3 separate regions of the Homo sapiens genome follow, and all the other regions are linked to region 1. Evidence: fine-mapped expression QTL. A gene starts in region 1. Each other region holds a variant in brackets. All regions are shown on one strand. Distances are between the middles of the regions.

Region 1 (8,171 bases):
TTCCTCAAAGTAAGTGATTATTGAGGGAAAAAAAAAGGAAAACCATGAAAAAAACCCCAATGCACCCTACTTGCTTATATGTGCGTAGAATATCTCTGGAAAAATGTCTAAGAAACCAATGGTGTGAGCTGTTTCCCAGGGAGGGTCTGGCATGGCTGGAGCACTGCGGTGAAAGGAGAACGTCCTTGATGCTCTACTCTTTTGTACCTTCAGAATTTTGTATGGATGGCTTGAAAATAGAAAGAAATAGAATTTGATTTTTAAAAGAGGCAGTCCCTGGAAAAAAGTTATTAATTTGCATATTGCAAGTTGAGAAAGTGAGAGACCAGAGCAAGAGGAGGTCACAACAAGATAAAAAGGTGGGGGCCGTTATGGAGCCCAGGGAAAGGAGGGCTGGACAAGAGACTCCGTCCATGTTTCTCTAGCACTTTCCAGGAGAATAAAGCTCTTGTTCTAGCACTCTCCTCCTTTGGACCTATCTGTAGAGAGCAGAAAAGTGACCACGAGGCTCTGTTGCATGATAAACAACCCCTTAAAAACCACCAACTTTCCATGGTCTTCCAGCAACCCATTTGGATGTCGTCCCTACAGTTGACTCCTTCAGTCCCTGTGTGTGTCCTCTGCGTGCCCCTGGCCCCCTGCCTTCCCTTAGCTGTGCTGCACAGAAAACCGCCCCAGCTCTTGGGTCAAACAGATCCCATAAGAAACATCAGAAGAAGCATCCTGGCTTACAAGTTATTTTTTGGTGAGTGCAATGGGCGTGCCGTGCTCCTCCAGGCCTGACCACCTGTATGAGAGTTGGCAGGAGGACATTTCTAAACTCACACTCTTAGGGCAGTAGAGATGGGGCCTAAGACCTTTGTCTCTCCTGGTATCAGTGAGCCCCGTGTAGCCCCTTTTCCTTATTCCAGGTCTGGAAGCTGCAGTCACAGACACACAAAGGTGCTGGGGCTTGCACATTCACCAGCGTCACTTTCTCCAGCCACACCACTACGTTTGAGGGCTCTCCTGTCCTTCTCTAACAGAACTAGTCTGGGACTAGACGCCAGGCTTTGGGCTAAGTACTTGATGTGTCTTCACTTATTAAATCCTTCCAATAACCCTTCAAGTTAGGTACCATTATTATCGTCATCAACCTCATTTTATAGAGAAGGAAACTGAGGTGCAGAGAAATTCAGGTTGAGGTTCACAGCAAATAAGCAGTGGAGGCCAAGTGTGCCCCCAGGTGGACCCAAATCAAAGCCACACTGTTACCTTCTGCTCTGCGCTGCCTCCCGGGGCAGTAGCCCTCGTGAGCCTCCCCACGTTGGGGTGTCTAATGAAAAGCTTCCCTGCTGGTTGAGCTGAAGGGGTCAGGGTCGGGGCTGTACAGAGAAACTCAGGCCACAAGGGCCTTTGGGCAGAACTGGGGTCACAAAGTAATCATGGTTTCCCAGCGAACACAAGACTTTGGCCCTCAGGCAAGGCTCCTTGATGTCTGGGGGAGCCTGTGCCCCCCAGCAGTGCTCACAGATCCACCCCTGACTGCCAGCCGGCCCCTTGATGGCGGTGCCTGTCTCAGATTCTGTGGTCAGTGCCACGCAGCTACCTCCAGAGGCAGCCTGCAGCCTGGCCATGTGGCCCCAAGCTCCAGGCTAGAGGCCAAGGGGAGTGTCCCTTCTCTCTCTGTGTCACCCAGGGCATAGGTCACCCAGGCAGCCTGGCATGGTGCCTCCAAGCCACTGTGCTAATGCTTCTACAGCTTCTGCTCCCTCCCTGCCTCCATGGGGCCCAAACCTAGCCCTGGTGCTGCTCTGGGAACTGGGTCAGAGCAGCACCCCAGCTCCCCCACCCCCAGGAGCCCCTCAACCTTGGCCTGCTGTCATCCTCGTCCGGCCCCAATCTTCCTGCAAATCGGGCCCTTGCAGGATTCCTGCTGACTCAGCAGCTGGGCCCGGACAGGACTTAGTCCCAGCGTGAGCCGATCCCGCTGCAGTTTGGGCGAGAATGACAAGCCCTCCACCAGACGATTCTTTATTGCTCTGAGACTTCCCTGGGATAATTCCACCCCCAGGAGCACTCTATCTGTTTCTGTCTCCTCCCCACACACCCCCTGGCCTTGAAAAAGGATGATCACTGACCACAGGCACTGAAAAGAGCAAACCAAGAGCAGCATCAATACCCTCACACAGTGGTGCACATAACACACTTTGAGTTTCTGACTTTTCCTAATCAGTTCTTCCTGCTAAAATACAGTAGCTTAACAAAAACAATGACAACAACAATCTGGTGTTTGCCATTTACAAGGCACTTTCTGTGTGAGTAGCATGACATGGTAAAAGAGAAAGAGATGAATTATAAAACGCAGCAAGATCATGAGTCAATGATTCACCCTGTCCCAGCCTGCTTCTTTTTTTTTTTTTTTGAGACAGAGTCTTGCTCTGTCACCAGGCTGGAGTGCAGTGGCGCGATCTCAGCTCACTGCAACCTCCGCCTTCCGGGTTCAAGCGATTCTCCTGCCTCAGCCACCCGAGTAGCTGGGACTACAAGTGTGCGCCACCATGCCCAGCTAATTTTTGTATTTTTAGTAGAGATGGGGTTTCACCATGTTGGCCAGGATGGTCTCGATTTCTTGACCTTGTGATCTGCCCGCCTCGGCCTTCCAACCGAGCCTGCTTCTTTTCTTGTAAAATGGAAGAGTCATAACATCCAACTTGAGTCTTGATATTTTAATGAAATAATGCATGGGAAAGCAGAAAACAGCACAAAGATTACTGGTTATAAGAGCTAAATCACTGTGACTCCATATCCAAATTCAATACCTACTGAATCAGTGGTTTCTGACTAGTCAATTTTTTTTCTTTTTTTCTTTTTTTTTTTGAGACAGAGTCTCGGCTGGGTGCAGTGGCTCACACCTGTAATCCCAGCTCTTTGGGAGGCCGAGGCGGGCAGATCACTCGAGATTAGAAGCTGGAGACCAGCCTGGCCAACATGGCAAAACCCTGTCTCTACTGAAAATAAAAAAATTATCCAGGCATGGTAGCACGTGCCTGTAATCCCAGGTACTCGGGAGGCTGAGGTGGGAGAATTGCTTGAACCTAGGAGGCGGAGGTTGCAGTGAGCCGAGATTGTGCCATTGCACTCCAGCCTGGGCGCCAGAGCGAGACTCCATCTCAATTAAAAAAAAAAAATAGGAGAGAGACAGAGTCTCACTCTGTCTTCTAGGCTGGAGTGCAGTGCTGTGATCTCAGCTCACTGCAGCCTCCACCTCCTGGGCTCATGCAGTTCTTGGGCCTCAATCTCCCAAGTACCTGGAACTACAGGCACACATCACCATGCCTGGTTAATTTATTATTTTTTGTAGAGACGTGGTTTCACCATATTGGCCAGGCTGGTCTTGAACTCCTGAGCTTGAGCGATCCTCCTGCCTTGGCCTCCCAAAGTGCTGGGATTACAGGCATGAGCCCCCATGCCCGGCGACTAGCCAATTTTTTAAAAATTACATTTTCTAGAGGTGTCATTTTTACTGGGAAAAACACAGTGACACCATTCAAGAAAAAATTGAACGGTAACTTTAATCACTACATTAACACAATTTTAAAGGTTGATCTGCATCATACATACCTTTTAAAGAATGTTTTCATCATATGTAGACAGCTTTTTTTGTTTTTTGTTTTTGTTTTTGTTTTGAGGCAGAGTCTCGCTCTGTCACCAAGGCTGGAGTGCAGTGGTGTGATCTGGGCTCACTGCAACCTCCGCCTCCCGGGTTCATGCCATTCTCCTGCCTCAGCCTCCCAAATAGCTGGGCCTACAGGTAGGTGCCACCACGCCCAGCTAATTTTTGTATTTTTAGTAGAGACGGGGTTTCACCATGTTAGCCAGGCTGGTCTCGAACTCCTGACCTCGTGATCCACCCACCTCAGCCCCCCAAAATGTTGGGATTACAGGCCTGAGCCACCACGCCTGGCCATAGGCAGCTTTTAAAAGAACACATGTGCAGCCTGGCCATCATGGTGAAACCTGTCTTTATGAAAAATACAAAAATCAGCTGGGCATGGTGGCACCTGCCTATAATCCCACTTGCTTAGGAGGTTGAGGAGGGAGGATCGCTTGAGCCCTGGAGGCGGAGGCTGCTGTCCAGCCTGGGCGACAGAGCAAGACTCGGTCTCAAATAGAAAACAAAACAAAACAACAACAACAACAACAACAAACCATGTGTGATTCCAAGCAAATCAGAGAATCTCTAGCCACCAGAAAAACCTTGAGGCATGTACTGAAAGGAAGAGGTCAGAATTCTCTGCGAGGAGCTCAGAGGATCCTGAGGGAAGAGAGAAGGCGGCTGCGCTTGGACACAGCTCCGAGCTCGTGCTCCCTCCTTCAGGCACCCAAGTCTGAGTTGCTAAAAAATGGAGCTGTCACTGGGCCTTGCTCTGCCAGGACCTGCAGAGCCGGGGACCTCTCTGTGGCAAGCCCAGCAAGATGACTGCTCTGAGGCGCCCTAGGGCTGAGGGAGGGGCCGTGACACCAGCCCCGCCCCCCAGCCACCTGGGAAAAGGAAGCACAAAAAGGAGAAGCAGCAACGGCTGCTCTGCTTCCTTCCCATCTCGCTCTTGGGTCATGCCTGGCCAGCAGAAAGCAGCTCCATAGGGGAGGAGAGCCACGCAGGATCTCACAGCTGCAGTCTAATAGTAACACAGAGGTAATTTTAACTTTTTACTTTTCTACCCTTGGGAGTAGGGATGAGTAGAGGCTTACCTCCTTCCAGAGGCAGCTCATATCCCCCCACCCCCATTCCCGGAAGTTGAGATGTCTCTTCTCTGTTCCACGCAGGCATCGTCTAAGTTGGGAACAGGTCTTATGTCTTAAAATTTGGGATTCTTTAAAAACATATGTGGCTGGGCACAGTGGCTCACGCCTGTAATCCCAGCACTTTGGGAGGCCGGGCAGGTGGATAATTTGAGGTCAGGAGTTCAATACCAGCCAGGCCAACATGGTGAAACCTCGTCTCTAATATAAATACAAAAAGTAGCTGGGTGGTAGTAGTAGCTGTAATCCCAGGTACTCGGGAGGCTGAGGCAGGAGAATCCCTTGAACCTAGGAGGCGGAGGTTGCAGGGAGGCAGAGGTTGTGATGAGCCAAGATTGCACCACTGCACTCCAGTCTGGGTGACACAGTGAGACCCTGTCTCAAAACAACAACAAAAATGTGTGATGGCACATGCCCATAGTCCCAGCTACTGGGGAGGCTGAGGTGGGAGGATGGCTTGAGCCTGGGAAGTCGAGGCTGCAGTGAGCTGTGATCATGCCACTGCAGTCCAGCCTGGGCGACAGAGTGAGACCCTGTCTCAAAACAAAACAAAACAAAACAAAACAAAAAAACCCAAAAACAAACAAAAAAGCACATGTGGAGTGTTGTAGAAGTCATTGACCTTGGTAAGACAGTGGAGGAAACTGCTTTGCTCTGACTCATAAATTTGCCCCCAGTAAACAGTATTTATAAATAGCCCCAGTCAGGCACTGCATGAAGACATTTCAGTCAACGACAGACCACATATACAACGGTGGTCCCATAAGATTATAACAGAGCTGAAAAATTCCTATTTTTCAGCTTAGTGTTGTGGTGCAACCACTACCTTTTCTATGTTTAGATACACGAATACTTAGCACTGTGTTACAATAGCCTACAGTACCCATTACAGGAATGCTGTACCGGTGTGTAGCCCAGGAGCAATGGGCCATACCATATAGCCTAGGTGTGGAGTAGACTAGACCATCCACGTTTGTGTAATTACAATCTATGATTTTGTAAAATGATGAAATTGCCTAATGAAGCATTTCTCAGAATGTGTCCCCGTCATTAAGTGACACCTCACTGTGTTTCCAAGACATAGTACTGGTCCTTGGGAAGCTCTAAAGAGAGGTCACCGTGAGCTGAACCATCCTTCTCACTCTGTGCATGGAACCCAGCTTAGCTTCCATTTCAGCATTTAGGCTTATAGGAGGAGAAGAGGTTAGAAGCCACAGACCAGCAAGAATTGAAGACATCGTTCTGTAATTTCTACTGAACCAGCTCTGTCTGACTGGAACTTCATTTTGCCTCTTTGCTTTAACTCCTCAGGAATGTCTTCCAGGAGGCCCCTGATCTTCTCTGCTCAGGGACCACTCTTATCTGACCCAGAGACAGGTTAGCTGATGGTGACTCACACATCCTCACTTCCTTCAAAGCCCAGGCATCTGTTTAAAATCTGACCCTGTGAAGACTTTTCCTGTTTTGGAAAAACTCTTCCGTTGTTTGCCTGCACAGATTTGTGCTCCATTTTTAATTTCAATTTTTGTAGAGAAGGCGGGTCCTTGCTTTGTTGCCTCGGCTTGTTTGAAACTCCTGGGCTCAAGTGATCCTCCTGCCTTGGCCTCCCACAGTGCTGGGATTACAGGTGTGAGCCACTGCACCAGGATGGATTTGTCTTCCTTCAGAAGACAGTAGCTGATGTGTGCCCTGGCCTTTCTCCCCTAGGATTCAGCAGTGGCCACCATGGGTTCTGTGAATTCCAGAGGTCACAAGGCGGAAGCCCAGGTGGTGATGATGGGCCTGGACTCGGCGGGCAAGACCACGCTCCTTTACAAGCTGAAGGGCCACCAGCTGGTGGAGACCCTGCCCACTGTTGGTTTCAACGTGGAGCCTCTGAAAGCTCCTGGGCACGTGTCACTGACTCTCTGGGACGTTGGGGGGCAGGCCCCGCTCAGAGCCAGCTGGAAGGACTATCTGGAAGGCACAGATATCCTCGTGTACGTGCTGGACAGCACAGATGAAGCCCGCTTACCCGAGTCGGCGGCTGAGCTCACAGAAGTCCTGAACGACCCCAACATGGCTGGCGTCCCCTTCTTGGTGCTGGCCAACAAGCAGGAGGCACCTGATGCACTTCCGCTGCTTAAGATCAGAAACAGGCTGAGTCTAGAGAGATTCCAGGACCACTGCTGGGAGCTCCGGGGCTGCAGTGCCCTCACTGGGGAGGGGCTGCCCGAGGCCCTGCAGAGCCTGTGGAGCCTCCTGAAATCTCGCAGCTGCATGTGTCTGCAGGCGAGAGCCCATGGGGCTGAGCGCGGAGACAGCAAGAGATCTTGATCCAGACAGAGCAGCATATCTTTGCTCATACAAACTAGAAGAACCAGCTGATCCTTGAGAAATTTACGCTTAGTCTATCAAACAAGAAATGCTGGCTTGGCCCGGTGGCTCATGCCTGTAATCCCAGCACTGTGGGAGACCACGGTGGGGGAATCCCTTGAGCCCAGGAGTTGGAGAGCAACATCACAACACCCCATTTCTACTAATAATCAAAAAATTGGCCGGGCATGGTGGCATGTGCCTGTAGTCCCAGCTACTTGGGAGGCTGAGGCAGGAGAATCGCTTGAGCCCAAGAGGTAGAGGTTGCAGTGAGCCAAGATCGCGCCACTGCACTCCAGTCTGGGCAACAGAGTGAGACCCTGTCTCAATAATAATAATAATAATAATGATGATACTCTAAGAAAAAAATCTCAACATACTTCATTTAATAGCTCGTTACCAAGTGTGAATGAAGCAATATGTCATAATAGAGTAGCCACTGGTTGCATAATAATAGAGACCTAAATTCTCAAATAGGGAAAGAGGTTTTAAAATCAAATTTGAGGCCAGGTGCAGTGGCTCATGGGCGGAGGAGGGCAGATTACTTGAGGCTAGGAGTTCAAGACCAGCCTGGCCAACATGGTGAAACCCCATCTCTACTGAAAATACAAAAATTAGGCATAGTGGTGCACGCCTGCAGTCCCAGCTACTCAGGAGGTTGAGGCAGAAGAATCGCTTGAACCCAGGAAGTGGAGGTTGCAGTGAGCCGAGATTGTGCTGCTGCACTCCAGCCTGGGTGAAAAAGACAGGCTGTGTCTCCAAAAAGAAAAAAAAAAGTCAAATTCAAATATCATCTGGACATGTCACAATGGATCGCGGATCCTTATGAGTGATTTTCCCCAGTGGCCCCTGGGGATGTGCCACTGTCACTCAGAAGGGCAAGCTAGGCAGGGCCCATACAACAGCAGGGGTCTGCAGGTTAGACGTTCCCTGCCCTGGGACGCTCACCCCTGGGCAAGAGGCTGGAAGTTCACACCATCCAAAATTTATCCTTGTTTTTTTTCTGATGCTAATTAGCCTCTCCCGATTTT
Region 2 (8,171 bases), 970 kb after region 1:
ATCATGTTATATATTGGGGGGCCAGGGTCTTCCAAGTAAGACTTGGTGTGAAGAAGCTTTTTGTTCACACACACACACACAAATTGAAAACCAATGACTTGCTTAAAGGCAACTGGTGGATGAGACAAGAGCAGTATCTGAAAAGAAGATTTACATTCCCTAATGTGCATTTGTTCAGGGAGTCATTTGATAAACTTACCGAGGACCTCTTATGTTCTAGGTAAGAGGTGGAGGACACAAAGATCACTGAGATACTGTGGCTCCTGCTCCCGGCTTCTACTCGTGGGACAGTCAGCCACTTAAGTGAACATAAGATGAGCAAAGGGTGCCTGGGGCCATCACACTGAGCAAAGAGCCATCGGGGCCATCACATTTGCCAGGAGCACAAGGGTGGAAACTGAAAGGCTTCACTGATAGAAGTGACATGTGGGCTATGTGGCTGAGTGATGCATGCTGCCTCTTTATGTTTCAGGATATCAAGCAGTGTCTTGTCCCCTCCAAAGATGCACTTGAGGGGCTCCCCTCTGTCAAAGCGATGGGGCAGGCAGTGTGCAGGAGGAAGAAAGGCTAGACTCAGCCACAGGACCCCAAGTGTGAGCAGGGGAGCCACAGCAGTGCCCTCAGCAGAGCCTTGCTGGGAGCCTCCACCTGCAGAGGTAAAGTGCAGCTGGAGCTGAGCCCCTGGGAGGAAGGCAGACCAAGGCTTTTCTGGAAGACTCCTTGGGGCTGCTTTCAAGAGTTGCTCTGGATTAGCCTTTTCTGCCTTCTTTTTGCTTTAACAACTGTACAATCCCTGTGCTAGAAGAGCCCTCTGTGGCCATGGAAGCGCCTAAGTGCAGGATCAAAGGGTTTGCTGGTCAGGTGAAGGGACTCAACAATATGAACAAAATTAGGCGCATTTAGTTCCTTTTTGGGACTCCTAACTTTTCATTTTCATATGGCTGCGGAGGGCATGCCTAGCATATCTGTGGAACCAGGGTGCCTGTGGAGAATGGATGCATAATAAACGTTTGGACCATGGAGTGAAATAAGCCAAATAGGGCATAGCTTCATAATTAAATTCACAGATGAAACCTGATGGAGATAGGATCTGGGAACACCAGCGACAATTGAGAAACTGCCCCAGAGGGATAGAGGGGAAAGGGACTAGCTGTATAGGCAGGAAATAACAACTTGAGGTTTGACCTTGAACAATGGAAGGCTAATTCACCTGGGCTGACATAATTGAAAACACAGATATACAGCACAGAAAAGGCACATGGAAATGTAAACCGTTGATAAGAGCTTGGGGAGAGTAAGTAGCAAATTGGATTGCAGATTAAATCAGGGCAAGGTTGCAAATTACTCAACTCCAGTGAGGGGTCTGCTAGACTTACAGCCCTGCTTGGCTCCACTGTGAGCTGGTGCAGGCAAAGGAAAGGCTGGGACATCATAAGATAGGGACCCAGGGCTTCTTCCTTCACCAATGCACAGAGGAACACAGGCAAGAGCTAATAGCAGGGAGGTCACTGATTGGTGTGGGCCTGTGTCTCTCTTGGCTTAAATAAAGTGGGAAAGAACACTTTGCCTTACATGCAAGATCCTCTGGGATGAGGTGGGGTAGGGAGGCTTCAGAGAGGAGGCTGGGGAGCTGATGTAGGTGATGGGGACATAGGTCAGGAAAGGAATTTGCATTTAGAACGAAACGTGGCACATGGTGGCACTCAATTTGTGTTAACTGCCACCAACCTCAACTCGCCTCAGAGTAAATATTGGGGCCTCTCCAATGGGAGCGTGGGCCCACTAGTGATTCTAGGTTTCTCCAGGTGGTCCTGAGCTGCCATATTGTACGTGTTTTTAATGCTTTCCCAGTGCCTAGTCTTTTGCTTTTGACACGAGTTACTTTTAGAATTTTATGTATTTCATTGTCTCATAAATACAGCTTCATTCTTTTTTTTTTTTTTTTTTTTTGTAATAAGCAAGAGTATAGAGATTAAATAGGGTCTTGGGTCCACTTAAATTGCCCACAGGTCAAAACATTCTGAGAAACAACGCTGCCAGTGATTAAAAAGAGCCAATTTAGAGGCTAATTTAGTAATTTATTAATTAATTTACTAATTTCTTAAATGTATTTAGAGGCTACTTTAGTAGTTATCCTCCCTGTTAGACAGGCACAAAAAGATCCTTGGCCTCTGTCCCTTCTCTTTACCTCTCACGTTGGCTGTTGATCTGGTGGATTCTACTTCCTTCAATACCTTCACAGCTGTCCCCTTCTTACAAGTCCCACTGCCACTGGCTGTCTTCACCCCAGGAGATGCAGTGCCTTCATCCCTGCTCCCCCTCTCTCCGCCTTCCATCTGCCCACCACCATTCTCAATGTGGGCTTTGACTGGGTCATTCCCCTTCTCAGAAACTTTCAATTGCTTTTAAAAAATGTATTCTCAAATCCTGGTCCGCTGTTCCAGGCTCCCATCCCTTGCCCTTCTGCCCCTGCAGCTTCCGAATCATTCCACCTCCTGTACCTTGTGATCATTCCTCTCTACCCACACAGGCTTTCCCCATGGATATCTTTTTTCCATGCTTCCTTTTCCTCCCAGGTCTCTCCATCCCACCCCATCTCTCTCTCTCATCTCCTCACATCTAAAGCCTATTAATCTTTCAAGACTCAGCTCAAGAGCACAAAGCCTTTCTCAGTTCCTCTAGCTTGAGGCTCTCTCTCCTTGCTCTGAGCTGCCATGATATGGGCACCTGTTCCGACCATCTCACAGAGAAAAAATGGGTCAGAGTCACTGTGTTGTGTGTTAAGAGCCCATGCTTTAGAGTTCAGAGCCTGGCTCTGTCACACACTAACCATGTGACCTTGAGCAAGTAAGTTAATCTCTCTGACCTTAAGCCTCCCTGTCTGCAAAACGTGTGACACGCTTGATGAAACATGTGTGATGTGCTTGGCAAGGTGGCTGTTAATGATCAGCAATAATGCTCCTGAGCTGCATGGCACAGGGGGAGGGGCTGATATATGACAGCTATTATTATTACATACTTACTAACCAAAAATAACATATTTTAGGTTATTGTATTTGTGTTCATGCCTTGCCTTAAGCCTTATGTTGGGCATTCCTTCAAGGCATAGCTCTTGGACGACTCATCCTTGTGTCTTCTGAAACACCTACTATGTTGCCTACATCAAGTAGGTCCTCAGACAGTGTCTGTTAATGGCATCAGTGACCAAATTAACAGAAAAATTATCAATGGCACCATGTGGAATGCTCTCTTAAAGCAAGTGTCCTATCATTTGGCTCAGCCTGGCCTTTACATTTCCACTAAGGTGACTGCACATTTCAGGCATTTACATGCAGGTGGGTGGGAGCAGAAAGTATGTTGTCGACAGGTGGTAACTTCGTGGCTTTGCCCTGTTGGGGTGTACGGTGGACGAATTCACTTCTATGCTTTATTTCCTCCCTTTATTTGACTAACCTGAATCTACCCAGCAACCAACACATAGAACAGAGCCTTAGAAATGGAGGCAGGTTTCCTCTGGGTCCCCTGGGAGCTTCAAGACCACACCATTATTAACTGGCTGGAAACAATTTAGCATCTGGCTCCCAAGGGATAGAAATGTAGAGAATGGGGTGAGAGTACATCCCATCCTGTCGTTTAAACAATATTCTGGCTCAGAAAGCAAAGAATCTAAACACATTTTTCCAAGAAAAAGTGAATGTAGTAATTTTCCTTGAAAGAGCTCAATGTTTTCAGTCTTTTGATAATTAGAGATGGAGTCTAGCAGGGAAAGGTCATTTCAGAGAACAGGATCTGTCCAGCAGAATTTGGAGAGGCTTTCTTTCTGAAGTGGTCTCCCTTCCTCCTTCTCTCTTGCAGACTCATGCCCTTCTAGTACCACCCTTGGAACTTAGTTCTTGTTTTGCACCCTGGACATGC[A/G]TACTCCTGGGATGCCCAGTCTGGGCTCATCCTCCTGAGGCTGGCTCCTGTACTCTGACTCCCTCCCACTTCTCCTCTGTCTTCATTTTTACCTTGGTTTGCTCTCAAACTATGCCAGGTGCTCACCTGTTACTTGTCTCCTGCAGCATGTGTGCTTTTTTTTTTTTTTTTAATTAACCACTATTTATTAAACTTCTATAATGTATCAGGTGCTGAGGCAGTCTTTTTAAATACATGTGTTCCTTTAATCTTAAAAACAATCTGTGCAATGATTATTGATATCTTCAATACATCAAAGTAAACTGGAGCTAAGAAAATGTACCATTAAATTACTACTGTTATAAAAGCAATTTTGATAGATGGTATTATTTCTCCCAAGTTTGTGTCTCTTTCCTAGTAGAAATACTATCTATCCTCGTCCTTTGCCATATGGTTATCTGTGCCTCCCAGGTGAAGGAATGTAGTTCACCAGATTGCTGACAAGCATGTGTGCTTTGTAATAAGGCCTTCTGGTGAGACGGTTTAATTCCAAAGAGCACTTTTAGTGGAGGAAAGATTTTGGCCCCATCTGATCTACCAAGGTCCAGTACCACCCCTGGAAACTAGATATGTTCTTATGTATCTACCATTTTCTTTCAAGTCATCTGTTCTCAACCTGCTAGGAAAGAGTGAACACAAAAGCGAAACTGAGTAATTATACTGAAAATTCATATTGGGGCGCTTTTATAAAAGTGACACCACGTTTAACTATACTACTGGAGAAATGGTGTGCTTTCAGGTAAAATTATTTCCAGGGGTTTGTAGGTACAACTTGAAGATTCTAAGCCTTGGAAGAAAGAGTTAAGTCCCAAATTCACTTCCTCCACTCCTTTTGAGGCATTTCTGAAATTAAACATTTTCCCAAGTTCTGCATAAAATCAGAAAAGGTCTATTGTTACTAAAGAGGAAAAGGAGATTGCTCAGAAGTTGTTTTCCAGCCTTACACAGAGCAAAGGGCCTGGTGAGAGATGATTGTTTTGTCAGGATTCTGAAGCCTTTTTGGAATAAGACAAAAAGACAAAACAAGGTTAGGGTAGGAGGTGGCCTAAATAAAGAGGATATAATGCTAAGTAAATAGAGCTGAAAGTCAGGAACCAAATGAAACAAGGACAGTCAAAACAATCAGGGGGACTTGCTGAAACCAGCCAAACAACAACAAACAGCTAACAATATGGAAATGAGCCTTTTAGAGGAAAACTCCAAGCTATGCTACACTATCCTGACTGTCCTTTCATGACAACATGAAACTAGTATCCCAGAAAGATGTAATATATGGCATCTGAAATGGCAGGAGTTGGAGTTTCCATGGTGAAAATAGTTCACTTGTCTCAGGCTTTACTCACCAAGAACAAAATTATGCCAGTCTTGGTTTCTTATGTCAGCTGGGTCTATATCTACGATGGACCAAAGAGCTTTGTTCTTGGACTCTTTAGGCAAGTCCTTGGTGCTTATGGTTAGGGTCCCTGTGGCAGAGTCCTGGTAGAAAGGATGTCCCTCCAAATTCATATCCTATTTTTAAAGAATTTTATTGGGGACCCTGTAGATCAACATTGTGTATTTTATATTTTATTGATGAAGAGCCTGAGAGCTAGAGAGGTTATGCTGTTTTCAAGGTATTATTTGAACATCTCTTTGCATATTGCAGCAATAGAATTGCTACAATAGGTCTAGATATTGACCTAGAGTGATCAAGAACATTGTGTTAATGAATATCCATACATCTATGTATGACAACATGTCAAATGAAAAAAATAAGTTGGATATAAAATTGATTCCAACTAAGTTAAACATATATTATATCCAGAGAATAAAGACTGAAAAGAAATAACACCAAAACATTAAAAGTGGTGCTCTGTGAGAGTGGGATTACAGGAAACTATTATTTTTCTTTGTTCTCTGTTTTCCAAATTTTCCAAAGTGAATATGTGTTACTTTTTTAAATTGGAAAAATAAACATTAGCAAGTTGTAAGTTTTATAAAAGAATAAAATTGTACATAAATATTATCAACCCAAAATGGTGGAAGACAGTCAAACGAGGCTATGGAAGCTGTGTAAGAATCAGTAAAAACCAATGCCTCCCAGAGGAATAGACACAGACTATTTTCATGTATTTGTCTGAAGGTGTCCAGGCCTGCTAGGAGAGGGTTTTATTTTTTGTTTTGTTTTGTTTTATTGAGACAAGGTCTTACTCTGTCGCCCAGGCTGGAGGGCAGTGGTGCAATCTCTGCTCACTGCAACCTCCACCTCCCGAGTTCAAGCGATTCTCCTGCCTCAGCCTCCAGAGTAGGTGGGATTACAGGAGCCCACCACCACGCCCGGCTAATTTTTGTATTTTAAGTAGAGACGGGGTTTCATCATGTTGGTCAGGACTGGGCTGGTCTCGAATTCCTGACCTCAAGTGATCCACCCACCTAGGCCTCCCAAAGCCCTGGGATTACAGGTATGAGCCACTGCACCTGGCCTGGGAGAGGGTTTTAACCAGGTGATCAAGCTACTCAAATATTCTGCAAAAACAGAGACTTTAAGGCTCAAAATATAAAAGGTGAGGGAGGACAAACTCCCTGAAGATGAGGGTGGCATTGTAAGATGCCTCTATGAAGGTGCTAAGAGCTGCAGGACTTCTCTCCACTGAGAGCCAATCACAATCCCAAAAGACACAATCTCCAACATTGTAATCTCAAATGTTGAAATCCCAAAAATATCGAAATCTTAAAAATATCGTTCTGGAAAAAAATATTAAAATATTCCTTAAAATATATTTATTCACACTTTAAAGGGGAACTAACTTGAGAAACACGTAGAAACACCACAGAAAACTTCATAGGCCACTTTGCACAATAAGATACGCAATAATAACATACATATTTTTGCCAGCATAAGCACAGGTACACTAACAATAGCAGCATGGATATAACAGTTACTAGTAGATGAGCCATATTCATAAAGAAATAGGTCAAAAAGCAAAATGTGTAAATGCATATCATTATGGTTGGTAATGGCGTGTACCCAGCTTCATAACTGAGTTCATCTGAAATCAAAAGCTGAGATGGTCACCACTGCATATGCAATCGCTCAAAGAGCCAAGATCTTGAGACGTTTTATCTTTCACAAACACAGATGTACTAAAAGGATGTCTCTTCATTTACTGAGGAGATAATTAATGTAAAAACATTGTGCATGTTTTTACATGCCACACAAGTCTTACATACAAAGTCAATATTGCGATAATGCACTTTTGTAAAGTTGAATTTGCAAAATATGCATGAAACAAATTAAAACTCTAAAGTCTCTAAACATCTTTACCTCTATTGTTGGAAATTATGCAGAGATGTAATACGCTACACAGTGAATTGTAAAACATAGTGCCGATAATTTTAAAAAGTCAAAAAAAAATTAAACAAAGGAAAAGCAAAAAGAAAAAACAAAAAAGCCCTAAAAAAATTTTTAAAAGTTTGACATATGAAAAAGTATATTACAGGGATAGATTATGGGCAATTTCAAGGAGATGGTACATAGCAGCTGGCCAGCTTTCGCGATCATTACCTTTTTTGTTTGTTAGTTTTTGAGACTAAGTCTTGCTCTGTCACCCCAGCTGGAGTGCAGTGGCATGATCAAGACTCACAGCAGCCTTGAACTCCTGGGCTCAAGTGATCCTCCCACCTCAGCCTCCTGAGTAGCTGGAACTATAGGCATGTGCCACCATGCTTGGTTAATTTTTGTTTTTTATTTTTTGTAGAGACAGGGTCTTACTATGTTGCCCAGGCTGGTTTCAAACTCCCGGCGTCAAGTGATCCTCCCACCTTAGCCTCCCAAAGTGCTGGGATTACAGACATGAGCCACCACACACAGTCTGATTAACTACATTTTGAAGGCTTGCATCATGATGAGTAGCTGCTTTCTTTCTTTAGGGATATGGCTGTTCTTTGGAGAATATGTTCACATTCATTTTCTCTGTGGCACTGCTCTTTTTGAAATTCTTCTATGATTTGTTATATACCGACTTGGGCATCCCATATTGCATTTTCCCATCTTCTGTTTAGGGATTTTGATCTTTGGGTATTTCGACATTCAGGATGATGGTGTTAGGGATTATGTCTTTTGGGATTATGATCCAAACTCCCCTCCACCTCCTCAGGCACAGGGCTGGCCCCATCCATGCATCAATGGGCACTCATATCTGGTTGAGTGTAAATTAAGATGTAACTGGAGAAATCCA
Region 3 (8,171 bases), 47 kb before region 1:
CTTTTTTTTTTAACTGTATAAAGATAAAACAAGGGTGCAAGGAAAGAAAAGAGGAACGCAAAAATGCAAGCAGAGGTAGAAAGAGTGTAACGTCCTTAAAGATAATATGCCAACCCACTTGGCTCTTCGTATTTTCTCTGGCACTTGAAAATACATCCTGTATCCCCACTGCACTTATCCTACGTCCATTAGTCCTACAGATCAATATCCCATTCCCTGGGATGGCTTATCCTAGCTATTGGCACTGTCCCTCAGAGAACTTGTGGCATGAGGAAGAAAAGGTTATTTTACTTTATACTCTGAAAGCAAATTCAGTCAGGACAAACACAGGCCTTCCAATTTTAGAAATCTACATTTAGAACTGGAAGGCTGAAGGAGTAATGTAGCAACTAATCTTTTAATTCCCCTAAGAGCACATTTATTTTACTTTCCCCAAGGAACAAATATTAAGGAAAGGCTAATTTTATTTTAGTTTATTTTACTGATCTAGCAAAAATATATTTCAACATGCTTATGGAGATTTTAAAAACAACAGGAAATGGAGAGAAATGGTACAGGAAAACTGGTTTTGATGAAATAATGTTCTCAATATTAAACAACAGTGGAAATTTAGGGTTGATCTGTAAGCACATGGCTTCCACACAGACCTCAACTAACCAGAATGTATTTGTTTGGGCTAGTTTAAATTGCTGTTATGTACTGGCTTTTAAATGCCACCAATAGGGTATTCTACCTTTAGATCTGGCTTCTACTGACCTTAGAGCTAAGGAAAAGAGTGGGAAAAGAGTAAGCAATCCTTCAGCATTGGCGAGCACCAAGATTCTGACGCTTCTGGTGTCATTTTAGAAGCATGAAATGAGTTTGTGTCATTCTTTATTATGGAAGCCGATAGCCAGAGGAAACTGGAAGGGCTCTGAATGTTGGAACAATCATTTTAAGTAGCCTAAACATTCTTCAGCATACAAGCTACAGCAAGCTTTAAACTACTCAAAACAGCAACTTCTAATATGCAAAATGATATTTTTAATTGCAAAAACTTTGAATTAAAGCATTTACACATACACTGAAAATTCCTAATAGAGGTTTCTCTATTTTTGTAAACTGAATGGGTGATGATTTTATTTATCAGTTTAAGTTGCTAAGCTGTCTTACGAAAAAAATTTATTTATAGTTAATGAGCTAGTGATAAAATCTAAAGGGCCTTGGAAAAAAGTACTATTGTATGCTAATGTGAACAAAATCCAGTTGTCCCTCAGTATCTGTGGGGGACCGGTTCCAGGATCTCCTGCAGATACTAAAATCCACAGATGCTCAAGTCCCTGATAGAAAATGGCATAGTATTTGCACATAACCTACACACATCCTCCCATATACTTTAAATGATCTCCAGATTACTTATAATACCTAATACAATGTAAATGCTTGGTAAATAGTTGTTAACGTTTATTGCTTGGGGAATAATGACAAGAAAAAATACTCTACATGTTCAGTACAAATGCAATTTTTAATATTTGCAATTTGAGGCTGGTTGAATCCACAGATGTGGAATCCATGGATACAGAGAGCTGACTTTAATAGCATACATTAATTCTTCTTCTGCAATGACCCCAGATACCAACAATGCCAGGGACATCATAAAGAATACAATCATGGTCTCTGCCTCTGAGGAACTGAAGGTCTAATGGAAAGTCAGATCCTAAGTAAGTGGAAAACTAGAATGCAAATACAACTGGAATAATTAAGGAAATGAATGTATCATGCAAGTATATGGTCCATGTGACACATGTTAATATGTCAAATAGGAAATAATTATGTGCAAACTAGTGACAACTATATAAAAATTGTATATAACAGAAAACAATTACACGAAATCCCAGAAACCAAATTCTCCATATTCCAGCAGATGATAAAATGTGAGCCTTTCCTCAGTGAAGATCATCCAGTTTCCTAGAAGAACAAAGTGTTCTTCATAGCCTTCTTCCTTTTTTAGCAATAAATGTTCCATTTGAGCACAAAAGATTGAAGGGTATGACAATCTTTATTTCTGAATCCATTTAATTCCAGAAAAACATTCAAATAAGAGAGCTCTACGGTTTGGGGTAAACTTTGGTATACAACATTACAACTTAATGTCTTCCATCTATGCTACAGCAAAAGCAATTCAAAAACCCTCTCAAGGTACAAACAGCCAAATGTTACTCTTACCAATTTCTTACATATAATTCTGATGGGCTTTTTGAGACTGAGCAAATGCTGTCTCATTGAGATACCAAATGTATTTCCCAGGTCCAGATAAGCCTCTAAGAATCAGCCTCAAACATTTTTAAATAAAAATAAAACTTAAAACCATTTCACCCACTCTATGGTATAAGGGCTGCAAATCACAGGCAAAGTTTCGAAGATGTGCTGAGACACTAATATGTTATTGCCCCAGCTGCTAGAACAGCTGTCATCCACGTCTCTCTTCTGCAAACACACAGTACTACAAGAATGAAAGGGAGGCCGGGCGTGGTGGCTCACACCTGTAATCCCAGCACTTTGGGAGGCCGAGGCAGGCGGATCACGAGGTCAGGAGATCAAGACCATCCTGGCTAACACAGCGAAACCCCGTCTCTACTAAAAATACAAAAAAATTAGCCGGGCCTGGTAGTGGGCGCCTGTAGTCCCAGCTACTCTGGAGGCTGAGGCAGGAGAATGGCGTGAGCCCAGGAGGCACAGCTTGCAGTGAACCGAGATGGTGCCACTGCACTCCAGTTTGGGTGACAGATCGAGACTTGTCTCAGAAAAAAAAAAAAAAAGAATGAAAGGGAAAGGAAGAATGCCCTGAATGCTTGACTAAGGAGTCTGAGAATGTAGCCTTCTCCCAAAGTAGTTTGTCATCCTTCAAGCTGAAGCCACCTGTACAGGTGAGTGAAGATAATACCCCCACCTTCATTTAGAGAACAGTATGACTAGTGTTTTAGAATTCTCTGATTGTGCCTACCCTTTGTTTCATAAGTTTTGTTCAAATTCATCACTAATTTTAGAGGAAAATGTAAGTTCCTACAACTGTCATTTCCCAACCACTAATAAGTTATTTGACTTGAAGCACAATTTGCAATAATGGCCTCTGTAAGCATTTCTTTAGCCCCATCATCCAAGGGGCTGCTTTCATCTCATTCATTTCATCTCGTCTCACTTCTAACCTCAGCCATGTGCTCGAAAAGCAAACGAACCAAGTGGCAATAGCATTAGCAGTGAAAAAAATAACATATCTAGGGTTGTGCAGCTGACTGAGATCTTATAAAAGTATTGCTTTTATAGGATACTGTTGTTTTCAAAAGGAAACCAGAAAAGAAATATCGATGATTAGAAATAATGTTTTTTCTGTAAGTTTGTTCTTTGTTAAACCAAACAAACAGGTGTCACAAAACAGAACAAAAAAACCAATGATGGGTCAAAGTTTAAAGAAATGGATAGATGGCTGGGTGAAGTGGCTCACACCTGTAATCCCAGCATTTTAGGAGGCGAAGGCAGGAGGATCACTTGAACCCAGGAGTTCAAGACCAGCCTGGGCAACATGGCGAGACTCCATTTCCTTAAAAATAAAAAGATTAGCCAGTCATAATGGTGTGCGCCTGTAGTTAGTCCCAGCTACTCAAGAGGCTGAGGTGGGAGGATCACCTGAGTCCAGGAGGTTGAGGCTGCAGTGAGCCGTGTTCACACCACTGTATTCCAGTCTGGGCAAGAGAGCAAGATCCTGTCTGAAAAAGAAAAAAGAAATGGATAAAACATAATACTTCATTTTATTTTCCAAATGAATTCAAGGCTGGAATTGGTGGGTCAAATTCAAATCTAAATATGGTTTCATGAATCTTTCTCATGTGGATACCCCAAAAGTGATTTCATCTATTAGTCCCCAGTTGTATGAAAAGTATCAACTGTACCCTGCAATGACCTAAAGCCAAACTGAAATTCCAGCAATGGACTGGCAGAACCATACACTATTAATTCAATAAATTTTCTTAGGTAAACAGGACACAGAGCCAACACCAACAGAAATTACATGGGGTTGGGGGATCTAGACACATAAACAGATGCTCACAACAGTGTGGCTGGTCAGATGCTGTGGAGGCAACAGAATTGGGAAGTATGCTTCAGCTACCTAAAGAGAAGCAGGCGCCTGCAACAGTGAGCACTCATGCCAGGTAAGGCTCTGGTGGAGGAACTGAAAGAAAGTCAGCATGGCTGCAGCCAAACAACTCAGGCTTTATCCTAAGAGCACCAGGTAATCCCTGAAGGGTCTTAAGCAGGGAAGTGGCATAAACAGATGTAGGTCTATGAAAGATTACTTTGGCTGACCACAGAGACATGAGACGACAAAGGAGTGCTTAGAGGAAGTCCAGATGGCTATGGTAAGCCAGAAAAGAAGGGATTGAAGCCCACACTAGGGAAATGGAGAAAATTGAACAAGAAGGAAAATCAAGAAGATTCTGCAACTGGCTGAATGGGACAAGGAGCACTGGA[T/C]AAGCAGAAAGGCAGAGCCGAAGATCACAGGCAGACGCTGAGCTTGAGTGAGAGAGAACTGTGCTGCCACTCACTACAGCAGAAAGCACAGCAGGCCTCAGGGGTGATGAGTCCTACTATGGACATTTGTGCCAGGTACCTGTGGGATATTAAAGTGGACAAGTCCCAACAGATGGATTTAGAAATCTGAAGCTCAAGAAAGGTCTGGATTGGAGATTTGGAAATCTGGCATGAAATCACCCAGGAAAAAAGCAAGTGAAATAAGGAGAGCAGAGTACCTTAAGAAGAACTCTAAGAAACTCCAACGGGAAAGGGACAGGGAGTACCCCCTAGAAGGGACTGTGAAGGAAGAGGTAGACCAGGAGGAAAACCAGGAGACAGAGTGTCACAGAGATCTGGGGACTTGAGCATCACAGGCAAGAGGCATGCTAGTGTCGAATGCTGCTGAGACACCAAACGAGGGAAGGGTGGAGAAACTTCCATTGGATTTAACAAGGAGAATTATCAGTGACCTTAACAAGAACAGTTTCACTGAGGTTGTGGGTGGAAGAGGCCAGGTTGCAGCAGGTTGAGGCGTATGTGAAAGGTGAAGAAAAGGAAACCATGAGTATAAACAACTTGTTCAAGAAATTTCACTCTGAAGGAAAAATGAGAAATCGCATAGTAATCACAGAATGTGATAGAGTTGCAGGACGTTTTCTGTTAACCTTTTTAATGTAAACATTGTTAGAGGCTTGAACATGTTTGAATTAATGGGAAGGAGCCAGTAGAAACATCAAAGAGGAGAGGATGTAACAACTCAATGGGCCTTAAGAAAGTAGCAGGGAATGGGATCTGAAGCAGAAGTGCAACAGAAGCGCCGGGCGCAGTGGCTCATGCCTGTAATCCCAGCACTTTGGGAGGCCGAGGCAGGTGGATCATCTGATGTCAGGAGTTCGAGACCGGCCTGGCCAACATGGTGAAACCCCATCTCTATTAAAAATACAAAAATTAGCTGGGCATAGTGGTGGGTGCCTGTAATCGCAGCTACTCAGGACCCTGAGGCAGGAGAATCGCTTGAACTCGGGAGACGGAGGTTGCAGTGAGCCAAGATCACACCACTGCACTCCAGCCTGGGCAACAAAAGCAAAATTCTGTCTCTAAATAAATAAATAAATAAATAAATGCAAGAGAAACTGTAGAAAGGAGCAAGTCTTCCTTTTCTTCCTTCCACAAGAGGAGGAGGAAAGGGTGAATGTGAATGAAAGCCAGTTTAAAGGTTAGGAATCCAGATGCTGGAGACATACTCATTCTCTCATTCTCATTCTCTCTCCCCGCTGAGTCTCCATTTTACATGCCCACCGGCAATGTACAACAGTGCTGCTTTCTCCAGTATTTACTGTCTTTTGTATTATACCCATCCTAGTGGATGGGAGGTGGTATCTCATGGTTTTGATTGGCATTTGGAGACCATTCTCTTCTGAGGTCACCTATTTTTCCCCTATGAAGAAAGAGTTAGGCTTTTTGCTAAGAGTAAGAGGGGAGGTAGCAATAAACAGTGGAGTGGAGGCCGGGTGTGGTTGCTCACGCCTGTAATCCCAACATTTTGGGAGGCCAAGGCGGGAGGACTGCTTGAGGCTAGGTGTTCAAGACCAGCCTGGGCAACATAGGGAGACCCTGTCTCTACAAAAAATAAAAAAATTAGTCGAATGTGGTGGTGCGCACCTGTGGTCCCAGCTACTTGGGAGTGGGGAGGATCACTTGAGCCTGGGAGTTTGAGGCTGCAGTGAGCTATGATCACATGGCACACTGTACTCCAGACTGGGCGACATAGTGAGACCCTGTCTCAAAAAGAAAAAAGTGGAGTGGAGCAATTGGGGGTAAAATGGTGAAGTCTGAAGCAGTCACCAGGGAGGATGGGAAAGAGCACTGAGCAGAGAAACCTAGCAGGATGGTAAGACCAAGCCCAGAGAAAGCTGGAGACCGTAAGTCTTTAGAGGTACCCATCTGGTCTCCTCTGTGAGCTTTTCTACCCCAGGAAAGAAGTGTGCTTTTGTGTATGTGTGTGTGTGTGTGTGTGTGTGTGTTTTAAATGTGATCTAACACACAGTTGACTTATATAATTATTTCATTAACTGATCTCCTCTACTAAGTCTATTCTGGCTAAATTCAGACAACACTCATCATACCCCTCTTGTGCATTCTTCAGCACGTACACAACATGTACTTTTTTTTTTTGAGATGGAGTCTCACTGTGTCGCCCAGGCTGGAGTGCAGTGGCACAATCTCGGCTCACTGCAACCTCTGCCTCCCCAGGTCAGGTAATTCTCGTACCTCAGCCTCCTGAGTAGCTGGGACTACAGGCGCACACCACCACGCCCAGCTAATTTTTTGTATTTTTAGTAGAGACGGGGTTTCACCATGTTGGCCAAGCTGGTCTTGAACTCCTGGCCTCGTGTAATCTGTCGCCTCAATCTCCCAAAATGCTGGGATTACAGATGTAAGCCACTGCGCCTGGCCAATATGTAACATTTTTAACTTTTTGTAAAACCAGAGAATATTTTGAAATGTGTCCGAATGCCCTGCCTAGATTCTAGACTCTGTGAGGCCCCAGCCTCCTTTCCTATGCATGACTTACTGTTTAATGTAGTACACACAGAAGGGATATCATCATCATAATAAAGGTCCTCACTTTCCTTCACAGTTTCATCTACCCCACAATGACTCCCAGGAAAAGGAGGGTACTGTTTCAGACTTCCCAGCTCCCGTATATTAGGTGGAGCCAAGTTCTTGCTGCAGCATACGGGCACGCTTTAAAATTTTCAAATCATTTTTTAAAAGCTACAAGCTTGACAGCTTTGGGTTTTTATGGCTACTTGTTTTCTGAAGTTCACAGAACTTTATCATTTGGATCACACACTTAAAAAAATCACTTGCAAAAATCTCTTTAAAGATGAATATGCTTCCTCTTCAAGAGAAACAGACTAGCGGGTAGAAGAAAAAGGACCCGTCTAGAGTATTAATAAATAGACTGATATTCACACAATGGATTAAATGGATTAAAGTCCATCCCACAGATGAACTGTTATATTAATAGAATCCAAATATACAGTTACATCCTCGACCCTGAAAGCAGTTTAAACGGGTGAAATTCACCCAGTGCTCACTTGAAATGAGTACTCTAAAGTTTAAAGCACCTATAAACTGCCCTCAGGATTCAATCATTTTTCCATTCCTTCCGGCATTATATACTTTGATGTTTTAATGTTATTAGCCCACAATACACACCAGTTTCAGAAACTCAGTTTTTGTCCTCTAAGGGCTTTTAGTCCTCCCAAAAAAAGAATAGGGCAAAAGCAAGGAAGATCATGAATCTGGTTTTCTAAAAGCATTATTACAAGACTGCTTTATAAAATTGTAATCCCCAGCTGCAGAGTTCCGCAGATGGCTTGAAAGTGTCTTACATGCAAATAAATAAAAACAAAAGGCCACTTATGCGAGCAGAACACAGCGTGCTCGATAGTCATCTTAAACCGAGCAGGTAGGTACTTTATCAGAGGCAGACAAGGGAAACGTCACTTATTTAGAGTTCACCGCACGCCTGGATAAAAGTCCTCACTAACAAAATCCCTGCCTTTGTGGATTCTGTGTCGGAAAGGGAAACGATAAAGAATACGGTTTGTGAC

The links. PIP is the estimated chance that this variant, and not a neighbour inherited with it, causes the effect.
Region 2: its variant is fine-mapped to the expression of ARL11 in whole blood (TOPMed, PIP 0.99).
Region 3: its variant is fine-mapped to the expression of ARL11 in whole blood (INTERVAL, PIP 0.98).

Annotation. Positions count from the first base shown.
Region 1 is chr13:49,623,938-49,632,108 of GRCh38, forward strand. It overlaps ARL11 (ARF like GTPase 11), which reads left to right and starts at 4,570. Exons shown (of 2, transcript NM_138450.6): 1 at 4,570-4,678; 2 at 6,493-8,171. The coding sequence starts at 6,511. The coding sequence ends at 7,101. RefSeq lists an enhancer at 4,822-4,871.
Region 2 is chr13:50,595,742-50,603,912 of GRCh38, forward strand. No RefSeq gene overlaps it. Among named protein-coding and RNA genes, the nearest start is that of DLEU1-AS1, 72 kb to the left of the region's middle. The variant A/G (reference allele first, on the strand shown) is at 3,916.
Region 3 is chr13:49,576,842-49,585,012 of GRCh38, forward strand. RCBTB1 (RCC1 and BTB domain containing protein 1) reads right to left here. Exons shown (of 13, transcript NM_018191.4): 2 at 3,664-3,743. Among named protein-coding and RNA genes, the nearest start is that of RCBTB1, 4.6 kb to the right of the region's middle. The variant T/C (reference allele first, on the strand shown) is at 4,507.